Regions from separate parts of the Homo sapiens genome. Here region 2 is linked to region 1. Evidence: fine-mapped expression QTL. A gene starts in region 1. The other region holds a variant in brackets. All regions are shown on one strand. Distances are from middle to middle.

Region 1 (5,446 bases):
ACTGTATACATTTAATGCCATGGTGACACAGCAAGAAAAACATGAATTTTCACATCTCTTGATCTCTTAAATAGAGATTCTTTATTCAGTAGTCATCTACTTTGGCTATTCCACAGGATGCTACACATCTGGCTAACAGGTACTCACCCTCGTTGTTTTTTGTTTTTTTTTTGGAGACGGAATCTCTCGCTCTGTCGCCCAGGCTGGAGTAAAATGGCACAATCTCGGCTCAATACAACCTCCGCCTCCTGGGTTCAAGTGATTCTCCTGCCTCAGCCTCCTGAGTAGCTGGAATTACAGGTGCCCACTACCACGCCCGGCTAATTTTTGTATTTTTAGTAGAGACCGGGTTTCACCAGGTTGGTCAGGCTGGTCTTGAACTCCTGACCTCGTGATCCACCCACCTCGGCCTCCCAAAGTGCTGGGATTACAGGCATGAGCCACCTCGCCCGGCCCCTTGGTTTTAAATTAAAAAAATTTTTTTTCTATAGCTCTAACCCAGAGTGGGAGATTTAAGGTGTGTGGCCTCCAGTTACAACATATAAAAGCATACCTACAAAAGGATTTCAATGAATCAACTATCTGAAAATCATAGAGCTTCAGTTATCTTCTCCAAGAAAAATAAACCTTACGTAGCCACAATTTGAAATTAGCTATTATGTGATATAAAGATTTCATGCATCCACAAAAATTCTCAATGAGATCTGCTATCTGCTTACAGTTGTAAAATTATCAGTTCTTTAAGAAGCAGACTGTAATCTTGAGGATTTAAAATATCATTTGATGTAAATGTTTAGATCTGCTTTATTTACGTATCTTTTATTGAAAGTAAATATTTAAAATATTTTCAACAAATAAGCAATAAATTTATTTACTACTTCCTAAGAAGCCAATTACTAATTGTCTCAGTCCTTGTAAATTAGGTCAATAAAGAGGTAAATGGTTTTAAGAAGTACTCAATGAACTTCATTAACACATATCATTTCTAGCCATTCTCATCTGTATTCCGGCATGGAACACTTCACATCATATTAAGTGAATAGCTTTTAGTTTATAAACAAACACTTATTTAATCATGAAACCGTCCAAGAAGGACTCCCCACCTTATTCTTTTTTTTACCTTCTCAGATCATATTTAGAAAGATTTCGTTGCCAGCTACATCAGCTACAAGTTAAAAAGAAACCTCTTAATACAGCAACAAATTTCCTTATTACTTTATTATAGTATGCCACCCCTACAGAGATTGTAAATTAAAGTATAAGATAATTATAAAAATACAAAATAGCAATGTAATTTTACACCACATACAAGAGAATACTTTCCAAAAATTATTCAATCTAAAATGAACAGCAAACTGATAAAGAGCTAATTCCACAGGCAAAAGACTGTCCCCGACTCAAATCTTCAGTATCTGGAACTGCCTTTCAAGATTCCTGTTAACTGCTGAACGTCTATTCAGCAATTTTAGTGACATTCTGGGTTTTTACGGTACTACTGAATACGAAACCATCATAAATTAACTTTATTGGGGCTCTGTACATTAGGGCCATCCAATGTCCTATTAAACACCAAATAATATATTCCATAACATTTTCTTCTAGTGATCAAGTTAAATACTAAAACTCTAAGAAGGCCAATTCTTTGATTTTCTCCACTCCTGAAGTGCAACAGTAACACTGAAGCTCTGAACTTAAACTGCACCCAAAACACTTCCTATCTTGATCTTCGTGGATCAATTCAAATTATTTCCCAGTTCGCATAATAAGAAATCAAAGAATAGATTAAACTGACAACCCTTAAAAGTTTTCACACCCTGAACCTAGTTGTCGAGTTTCTTAAACTTTTGTCTCGCCGTCTTACAATTTCATCTCTCAAATGGAGATGAAGAAAAACACCGAGTGAGATTGTCCACTGAGCTGTGAGTGATCCCAGGTCAGCCTGGTTCTCTGCCAGAAAAGACCAGGTGACATTTACTCTTCCTGTAGAAGTTTCTTTCTCTTGACCCTCAAGGAACCTTCCAGTATATTGTTATACTACTGTAATTCATCAGTAGTTACAATATTTCACTTCCCAAAGGAATCTCTTCCTTGCAAGATGACTACTCTCTAAAGACGCTTTCAAGACCGTCCACTCCTCAATTCCAGGACAGTAAACCTCCCTCGCTAGAGGAGAAAAAGTTCCTGAAAGACAGACCGGAATGGATTTGCTGAACTTTCGTCCCAATCTCAAAGCATGTAGACATCCAAGGGTTCCCAAGGAACAATGAGCTACAGAAGTACAGACTAAACGGGAAAGCAGAGGAAGTATCAGAACAATACCCAAACCAAACACAGCACCGAAAACCCGTGGTAGCCTCTATCATCCCAAACTACCGTCCCCACTTCCCTAGTTTCACCAAGGTCTCAAACTCGGAGAAATGGTACCCATCCCCTAATTTCCTCCCTCAACAGACAACAAACGCGTCATGAAGGTAGCAGCGAGAAAAGCAGCAGGCTCTGGTGGACCGGAGCCGTGATGGCTGGGTGGAAGGAGGCAAGCCAAGGGTTGTGTAAAGAATGGAAAGCTGAGCGATCCTGGAGGAGGGTGGAATTAGGGCGCCCGAGCTAATCCCCCGCGGGGGCCCGCTGGTGGGAAGAGACGGGGGGCGAACCGGCGAGGGGACTGGGGGCACCGGGCTGCGCTGGGCTTCTGGGTCGCAAGAAAGGGGAGCGGAGTCTGGCAGCCCCGCCAGTGGGTGGGTGACGGCGCCTGCCAGGGAGGAGGCTCCGTGCGGAGCGGACGTTTTGGGATTAGAGCGCGCGACCCGCCCTCCTCACGCCGCCCGAGCCCCCCAAGCTCACACCTCAAACCTGCTCTTGGTCACTCCGTTCACGTCCCTCCTCATGGGGCCGGCGGGTGCGGCCCGGGCCGGGCGCTGCGGCGAGCGGAGTGCACAGACCGGGGGCCCAGGACAGGCCCGGGAGTTCCGGGACGGGGACTGGGCGCCGGAGGGGTGACGCCGGGACCGTGGGACGGGAACAAGAGACCTCTCGGCTCCGGCTAGGCCTCCACCACCTCCCGCGGCGCCGGCGGCCGCAACGACTGCTCGTCGCTAGCTCGGCTCTCTCCTCAGCCTCAACTTCAACCCAAAACAAAAACACTCCCCACCTGCCAGCAACGCCGCTGCTCATTGGACAGAGCCGCCCGGGCCTCGGAGCGCCCGGGAGGGGGAGGGGCGGGAGGGGAGGAGCGCGGCGGCGGCGGCGCGAGACCACCCCTCCCCCACACGGGGCCGGCCCTGACGGCGCTCCCGGGAGCAGCCGGTGCGCGGCGGCGGCACGACCCCCTGCGCCTCCGAGGCAGACGAGCCCATCGGGAGAAGGCGAGGCAGGGAAGTGCCTGTGCGTGTGGAAAAGGGGGTCTGTGGGGCGGATGCGAGTGCGCGCGTGCTCGCGGACCAGCGAGGGAGAGTAGAGCAGTACCGCACTCTGCGCGGGGGCCCCTCTTCTGCCCCGTGTCCCCCTCTCCTCCCTCCGCGGGCAAACAGGCACGCACCTGCCTGCACAGAACCTCAGCCTCTGCCCGCGCCCGTCGCCCCTCGTCACTTGTTCCCCAGGATCCTGTAAGGCACCCGCATCCTTCCCGGCCACCCAGCTCCCTTCCCCTGTCACTCACTGTCGCCTTGAACCCAAAGTGCAGCAGGCGGTCCCTGCTCGGAGCCATTTTCCTCCTCTTCTGGATGTGTCTAGATTGGGGCAGTGCGGCTGCCGCCGCGCCTCCGCGGTTGCCGCCGCCGCCGCCTCCCCCGCCTCCCCCGCCCCAGTGCATTACATTACGGGGTGCTGCAGGGAGGCCTGGGGGGCCGGGGCCGGACGCTTGTCTCCCTGTGCATGGCTCGGGAGGGCGAGGGTGGTTGCGCTGAGCAACAGGCCAAGTGCCCGCCCTGGTCCGGGGATGGCTGCGGAGCTGCACCTGAGGCCGGGGGTCGGGGGTGCAGGGCTGGAGCCGGGCAACCCTTCCTTTGGCCGGGGTCGGGGCGCGCGTCCGTGGGGGTGGGGCGGGCGAGACCGAAGAGCCTTTGGTTTTCCTTGCTCGGCCGCCGCCGGCGCCCAATGGGCTGCAGCGCCTGCCTGTCCGCCAATCAGGGCGCTGTTTGGTGAGAGCTTCGGCCTGACGTCACTTTGGCGGGAGAAACAAGCGTGTGTGAGCGAGTAGGCGGGGGCGTTTTCCCGATGGAAACACTTCATCAGACTCCCGGGCTCCTTGTATAGAAGCTGATCTGTGTCATCATATTATATTATGTTTTAACAACTCTGGCCTTCAAGGTCTCAGAATTTATGACCGAATTTCCACGAAGGAATAACACAGGATTTTGTAGTTTTGTTGCCCCTTCTATGAGCAACAAACTACAAAATTATGTCCTAAGAGTGAACTATTAGAAACTGTATAATAAATTCCAGCACACCTGGCAGGAGCAGCAGCACTGCTAATTGTATGCTTCCAAAGCAGTTATGAGTTGGTCTTCCTCACACCCCTTTTAATTAGTGGTTTTAGCGACTGACTTGTTATGCGTCTAAGAAATTAACAAGAGCAACAAGTGCGGCAGATCTTTAAGAACAGGTATATTTTAGCTGGAGGACATATTACCCAACTCTTAAAGCACTGTACAAACTTTTTCTTTTTTTTTTTTTTTTTTTTTTTGAGACAGAGGTTCAACTCTGTCGCTTAGGCTGGAGTGCAGTGGCACGATCTCGGTTTACTGCAACCTCTGCCTCCCGGGTTCAAGCCTCCCAAGTAGCTGGGATTACAGGCGCGCCGCGCCGCACCTGGCTAAGTAGAGACGAGGTTTCGCCATGTTGGCCAGGCTGGTCAGGAACACCTGACTACAAGTGATCCGCCCGCCTCGGCCTCCCAGAGTGCTGGGATCTTTTTTCTTTTGTAGAGACGGGGTCTCCCTATGTTGCCCAGACTAGTCTGCAATTCCTGGGCCCAAGTGATCCTCCAGCCTCCTCCCAGTGCTGAGATTACAGGCCTCATGTGAGCCACCACGACCAGCGCGCCACCCCCCGGCTTTTTTTAATCCTAGAGGGGGCTTCCTAAAACCAGGGACCTAGCTTCAGAAACTCATTCTCAGGCCCACAAACCCAGGTCTGTCTTCTCCTCCTGTCCCAGGTACTTTTAATGTTTTTGCTTGACTTCAGCCAGTGGAATAAAAAAGCCTTTTCATTCTGTCTCATCTAAGAGCTGTTTTCTCCCAGCAAAAACTGATGCATTTGGTGAGTAACAATGGCAAAGGGATGGCCGGGCGCGGTGGCTCACGCCTGTAATCCCAGCACTTTGGGAGGCCAAGGCGGGCGGATCATAAGGTCAGGAGATTGAGACCATCCTGGCCAACATGGTGAAACCCCGTCTCTGCTAAAAATACAAAAATTAGCTGGGCGTGGTGGTGGGCGCCTCTAATCCCAG
Region 2 (5,000 bases), 86 kb before region 1:
TGGGATTACAGGTGTGAGCCACAGTGCCCGGCCATCTTTTTGTTTTTTTCTTAATTTGTATTTTTTCTGAGATGGAGTCTCACTCTATTGCCCAGGCTGGGGTGCAATGGCGCAATCTCGGATCACTGCAACCTCCACCTCGCTAGTTCAAGTGATTCTCCTGCCTCAGCCTCCCAAGTAGCTGGAATTACAGGCGCCTGCCACCACGCCAGCTAATTTTTGTATTTTTAGTAGAGACAGCGTTTCGCCATGTTGGCCAGGCTGGTCTCAAACTACTCACCTCGAGTGATCCGCCCGCCTCGGCCTCCCAAAGTGCTGGGATTACAGGTGTGAGCCACCTTGCCCAGCCGAGATAATTATCTTTAGAAACCAAAATAAAAGAATTGGTGGGGTAGGCTGCCAGGGTTTTAGCTACTACAGCAATTATTTTTTTCCCTCATAACAAACATTTATTTATTTTTACTTTTTTGAGACGGAGTTTTGCTCTTGTTGCCCAGGCTGGAGTGCAATGGCACAATCTCGGCTCACAGCAACCTCTACCTCCTGGGTTCAAGCGATTCTCCTGCCTCAGCTTCCCGAGTAGCTGGGATTACAGGCATGCGCCACCATACCCAGCTAATTTTGTATTTTAAGTAGAGATGCGGTTTCTCCATGTTGGTCAGGCTGGTCTCCAACTCCCGACCTCAAGTGATCTGCCCACCTTGGCCTCTCAAAGTGCTGGGATTACAGGCATGAACCACAGTGCCCGGCCCAAAATTTATCTTTTAAAATACACACTTTAAAGTGCATAATTCGGTGATTTTTTTTAGTATATTCACAGTGTTGTGCAACCATCACCACTATGTAATTCCAGAACATTTCAACAATCTCAAAAGATTCCCTGTACCCATTAGCAGTCACTCTCTATCCCTTCCTCACCCAAACTCCTGGCAACCACTAATCAACATTATTTCTCTATAGATTTGCCTATTCCGCACATTTCATATAAATGGAATAATACTGTAATGAAGACTTTTGTGTTGGCTTTCACTTAGCACATTTTAAAGAATATATCCATGTTGTTGCACGTATTCATACTTCATTCCTTTTTATGGCGGAATAATATCCTACTGTATCCATTCTCCAGTTAATGGACAATTGGGTTATTTTAACTTTTTGGCTATTATGCTTTTTGTTTTTTCAGAGACGAGTCTCACTCTGTCACCCAGGCTGTCACCTGGCTGTAGTGGCGCCATCCTGGTTCACTGCAACCTCCTCCTCCCAGATTCGATTCTCCTGCCTCAGCCTCCTGAGTAGCTGAGATTACAGGCACAAGGAACCACATCCAGCCTTGTGCCTGTACAAATTTTGTATATATAGTAGAGACAGAGTTTCACCATGTTAGCCAGGCTGATCTGGAACTCCCAACCTCTAGTGATCCACCTGCCTCGGCCTCCCAAAGTGCTGGGATTACAGGTGTGAGCCATCACAACTGGCCAGTTATGTGGTATTTCTATATTTAGAGATTTTAGAAACTGCCAAGCTGTGTTCCACAGTGGCTGTACCAGTGTACACTGTAGTGTACATTCTCACGAGCAGTTTGTGAGGGTTTTAATTTCTCCATATCCTTTTCTTTTTTTTTTTTTTTTTTGAAATGGAGTCTCACTCTGTGTTGCCCAGGCTGGAGTGCAGTGGCACGATCTCAGCTCACTGCAACCTCTACCTCCCTGGTTCAAACGATTCTCCTGCCTCAGCCTCCCAAGTAGCTGGGATTACAGGTGTACACTACCACACCCGGCTAATTTGTGTATTTTAGTAGAGACGGGGTTTCACCATGTTGGCCAGGCTGGTCTCAATCTCCTGACCTCAAGTGATCTGCCCACCTCAACCTCCCAAAGTACTGGGATTACAGGGTTGGGCTACTGTGCCCAGCTTAATTTTTGTATTTGCACTAGAGACAGGGTTTCGCCTTGTTGGCCAGGCTGGTCTCGAATTCCTGACCTCAGGTGATCCGCCTGCCTCGGCCTCCACATCCTTGACAACACTTTTTGATTACAGACATCCTAGGGAGTGCGAATTGGTACCCCATTGTTGTTATGATTGGCATTTCCCTGATGGCTAATGATGTTGAGCATCTTTTCACGTGCTTATTGAAAGCAGTACGCTTTTAGTAAGGTTTTCACAAACTACCTCAGGAGGGAAGATTATTAATGGGCAAAGTTTAAATAATTTATATATATATATATATATAGTACATGTCTTTAAAACATATATAGGTACACGTTTTCTTCCTCTTCCTTTCCTTTGTTGAAAGAGTCAGTTCTAAAGCCATTAGGAGGGGCATAGAAAGGTAGGTATCAATGCCAGGTTAGAGGTTGGGTGCAGAGGCTTGAACAATACGTCGGAGTCCAAGCAGAGTGAGGAGAGGACCCTTGAGGAGGGTGACCTAGCAGGAGATACTGGGATACAAGCAGGGTGAATGGGCAGCCTTGGGTAGAGTGTCAAAGTAAGGTGAGAAGGGCATCCACACAGAGGATAAACCTAGTGCGGGCTTTAGAACCCAAGCAGGACTTTGTCCGTGCAACAGGAGGAAGGTGGCATGGCATGAAGTGCCCAAACCCAATGAAGTGAAGAGGGGATCTTTGAGAGAGAGTGAGAGAGAGAGACAGAGAGAGAGAGAGAGAGAGAGAGAGAGAGAGAGAGAGAGAGCAACTGTAGAGCGAAATTGGTTAAAATCAGGGGAACTGAGTAAATAATAAAATACATTAACCATAATAAAGATGGGCAAGGTGGCTCATGCCTGTAATCCCAGCTTTTGGAAAGGCCAAGGTGGATCACTTGAACCTTAGAGTTCAAGGTTACAGGGAGCTGTGATCATGCCATTGCAGTCTAGCCCGGTTAACAGAGCAAGATCCTATCTCTAAAAACAAAAAAACATGAACCACAACAGAAGTTAGGTTTCTGTTACAAAGGGAGATGTGAATCTGGAAAGGGAGAAAACTAGACTAAATTATGCAGTGTTGGATTGGAATTGGAAATATCAGTGTATTAATAGAAACATAGTTATCAATATATACAGATATAAACATACATGTAAATTGTGTACATATATACACGTGTTCATCTACATA[T/TAC]ACACACACACACACACACACATTTTTTTCTTTCCCCCCGAGCTCTGTCTACTAAGAGGGCCTGGAGCAATAACCCCTCAATGGCAATGGTATTTAACTCCCAGATACTGGCTTCTAAACATTTCTTTCTAGTAGAAGGAATCAGGGCTCCTTGGAGAAATAGGGCAGAGAAAATGTACGATGAGCCTGGAACACCTTGTGATAGAAAGCAAGTGAGTGCTCAAAGAATGATGGGGACACGTCAAAAAGTCATGGTAACCAGCTTGAAGGGGCTTCCACTGGCCAAATCTGGGACAACCTGAATATGAAAACAAACGAGAGCAATGAATTACAATTTACTAAATAAAAAAGGGAAGCCATAAGTTCAGACTGATGTAAATTAATAAACTGAAGTTTAAGAAGAATGGGACGGCTGGGCACGGTGGCTCACGCCTGTAATCCAAGCACTTTGGGAGGCCAAGGCGGGGGTGGGCCACCTGAGGTCAGGAGTTCGAGACCAGCCTGGCCAACATGGCGAAAGCCCGTCTCTACTGAAAATACTAAAAATGAGCCGGGCATGGTGCTGGGCGCCTGTAATCCCAGCTACGCAGGAGGCTGAGGAATGAGAAGCACTTGAACCTGGGAGGCGGAGGTTGCAGTGAGCGGAGATTGCGCCACTGTGCTCCAGCCTGGGAGACAGAGTGAGACTCCATCTCATTTAAAAGAAAATGAAGACAAGAATAATTAACCAAACATAAGATGTTCTTGGATAGCATAATTTAATATCTTAGAAGATACCAATACTTCCCAATGTAATTTAATTTCCTGATTAAATGTCCAATATATGAATTGAATCCAAACAGATTTTTGCTTAACGAAAAAAATTGATTCTGAAGTTGATATGGATGAAAAATGTGTGAAAATCACCAAGAACTTATTAAAAAAGACAAAGAAGAGCTGCTTTTCTTTCCCCCCATGAGACAGAGTCTCACTCCATCACCCAGGGTGGAGTGCAGTGGTGCTATCTTGGCTCACTGCAACCTCCGCTTCCGGGGTTCAACTGATTCTCCTGCCTCAGCCTCCTGAGTAGCTGGGATTACAGGCATGTGCCACCATGCCTGGCTAATTTTTATATTTTTAGTAGAGATGGGGTTTCACCATGTTGGCCAGGCTGGTCTTGAACTTCTTACCACGTGATCCGACCGTCTCTGCCTCCCAAAGTGCTGGGATTACAGGCGTGATCCACCGTGTCCGACCAAGGTGCTTATTAAAATGTACAAAAATTACTGAATTCCAAATAATATGGTGATTATAAAGAAGGAAAAAAAATGATGGAACAAAACAGGGCATCCAGAAAGGCCCCAGATACATGTAGGAATTTAATACATAGGAGAGTTTGACTTTGTTTTTTTTTTTGTTTTTTTTTTTGTTTTTTTTTTTTTTTTTTGAGACGGAGTCTCACTCTGTCACCCAGGCTGGAGTGCAGTGGCACGATCTCGGCTCACTGCAAGCTCCTCCTCCCAGGTTCACGCCATTCTTCTGCCTCAGCCTCCCCAGCAGCTGGGACTACAGGTGCACGCCACCACGCCCAGCTATTTTTTTGTATTTTTAGTAGAGACGGAGTTTCACCGTGTTAGCCGGGATGGTCTCGATCTCCTGACCTAGTGATCCGCCCTCCTCGCCTCCCAAAGTGCTGGGATTACAGGCGTGAGCCACCGCTCGCGGCCTCACTTTCAAATTAGTAGGAAAATAATGAATTATTTAGTAAATGGTGTTAGGAAACCTCATATTTGAAGAATGTAAAATCCCTGCCCTCAAGCCATATAAAAAAAAATTCCTATGATAGCTTTATTGGCAAAATGTTGACAATTATTGAAGTGGGGTAACAGGAGTTTCATTATACCATGTTGT

Evidence for each region. PIP is the estimated chance that this variant, and not a neighbour inherited with it, causes the effect. A credible set is the group of variants that fine-mapping cannot tell apart.
Region 2: its variant is the best candidate, but not a certain one, in a credible set for the expression of FBXL20 in whole blood (INTERVAL, PIP 0.57).

Annotation. Positions count from the first base shown.
Region 1 is chr17:39,398,518-39,403,963 of GRCh38, forward strand. FBXL20 (F-box and leucine rich repeat protein 20) reads right to left here and starts at 3,109. Exons shown (of 15, transcript NM_032875.3): 1 at 2,844-3,109. The coding sequence starts at 2,885. RefSeq lists silencers at 2,362-2,654, 2,719-3,148, 3,179-3,378, 3,409-3,488, 3,739-4,128 and 1 more.
Region 2 is chr17:39,313,184-39,318,183 of GRCh38, forward strand. The region is part of intron 2 of FBXL20 (F-box and leucine rich repeat protein 20); the gene reads right to left. Among named protein-coding and RNA genes, the nearest start is that of MIR548BC, 18 kb to the left of the region's middle. RefSeq lists a silencer at 2,780-2,980. The variant T/TAC (reference allele first, on the strand shown) is at 3,111.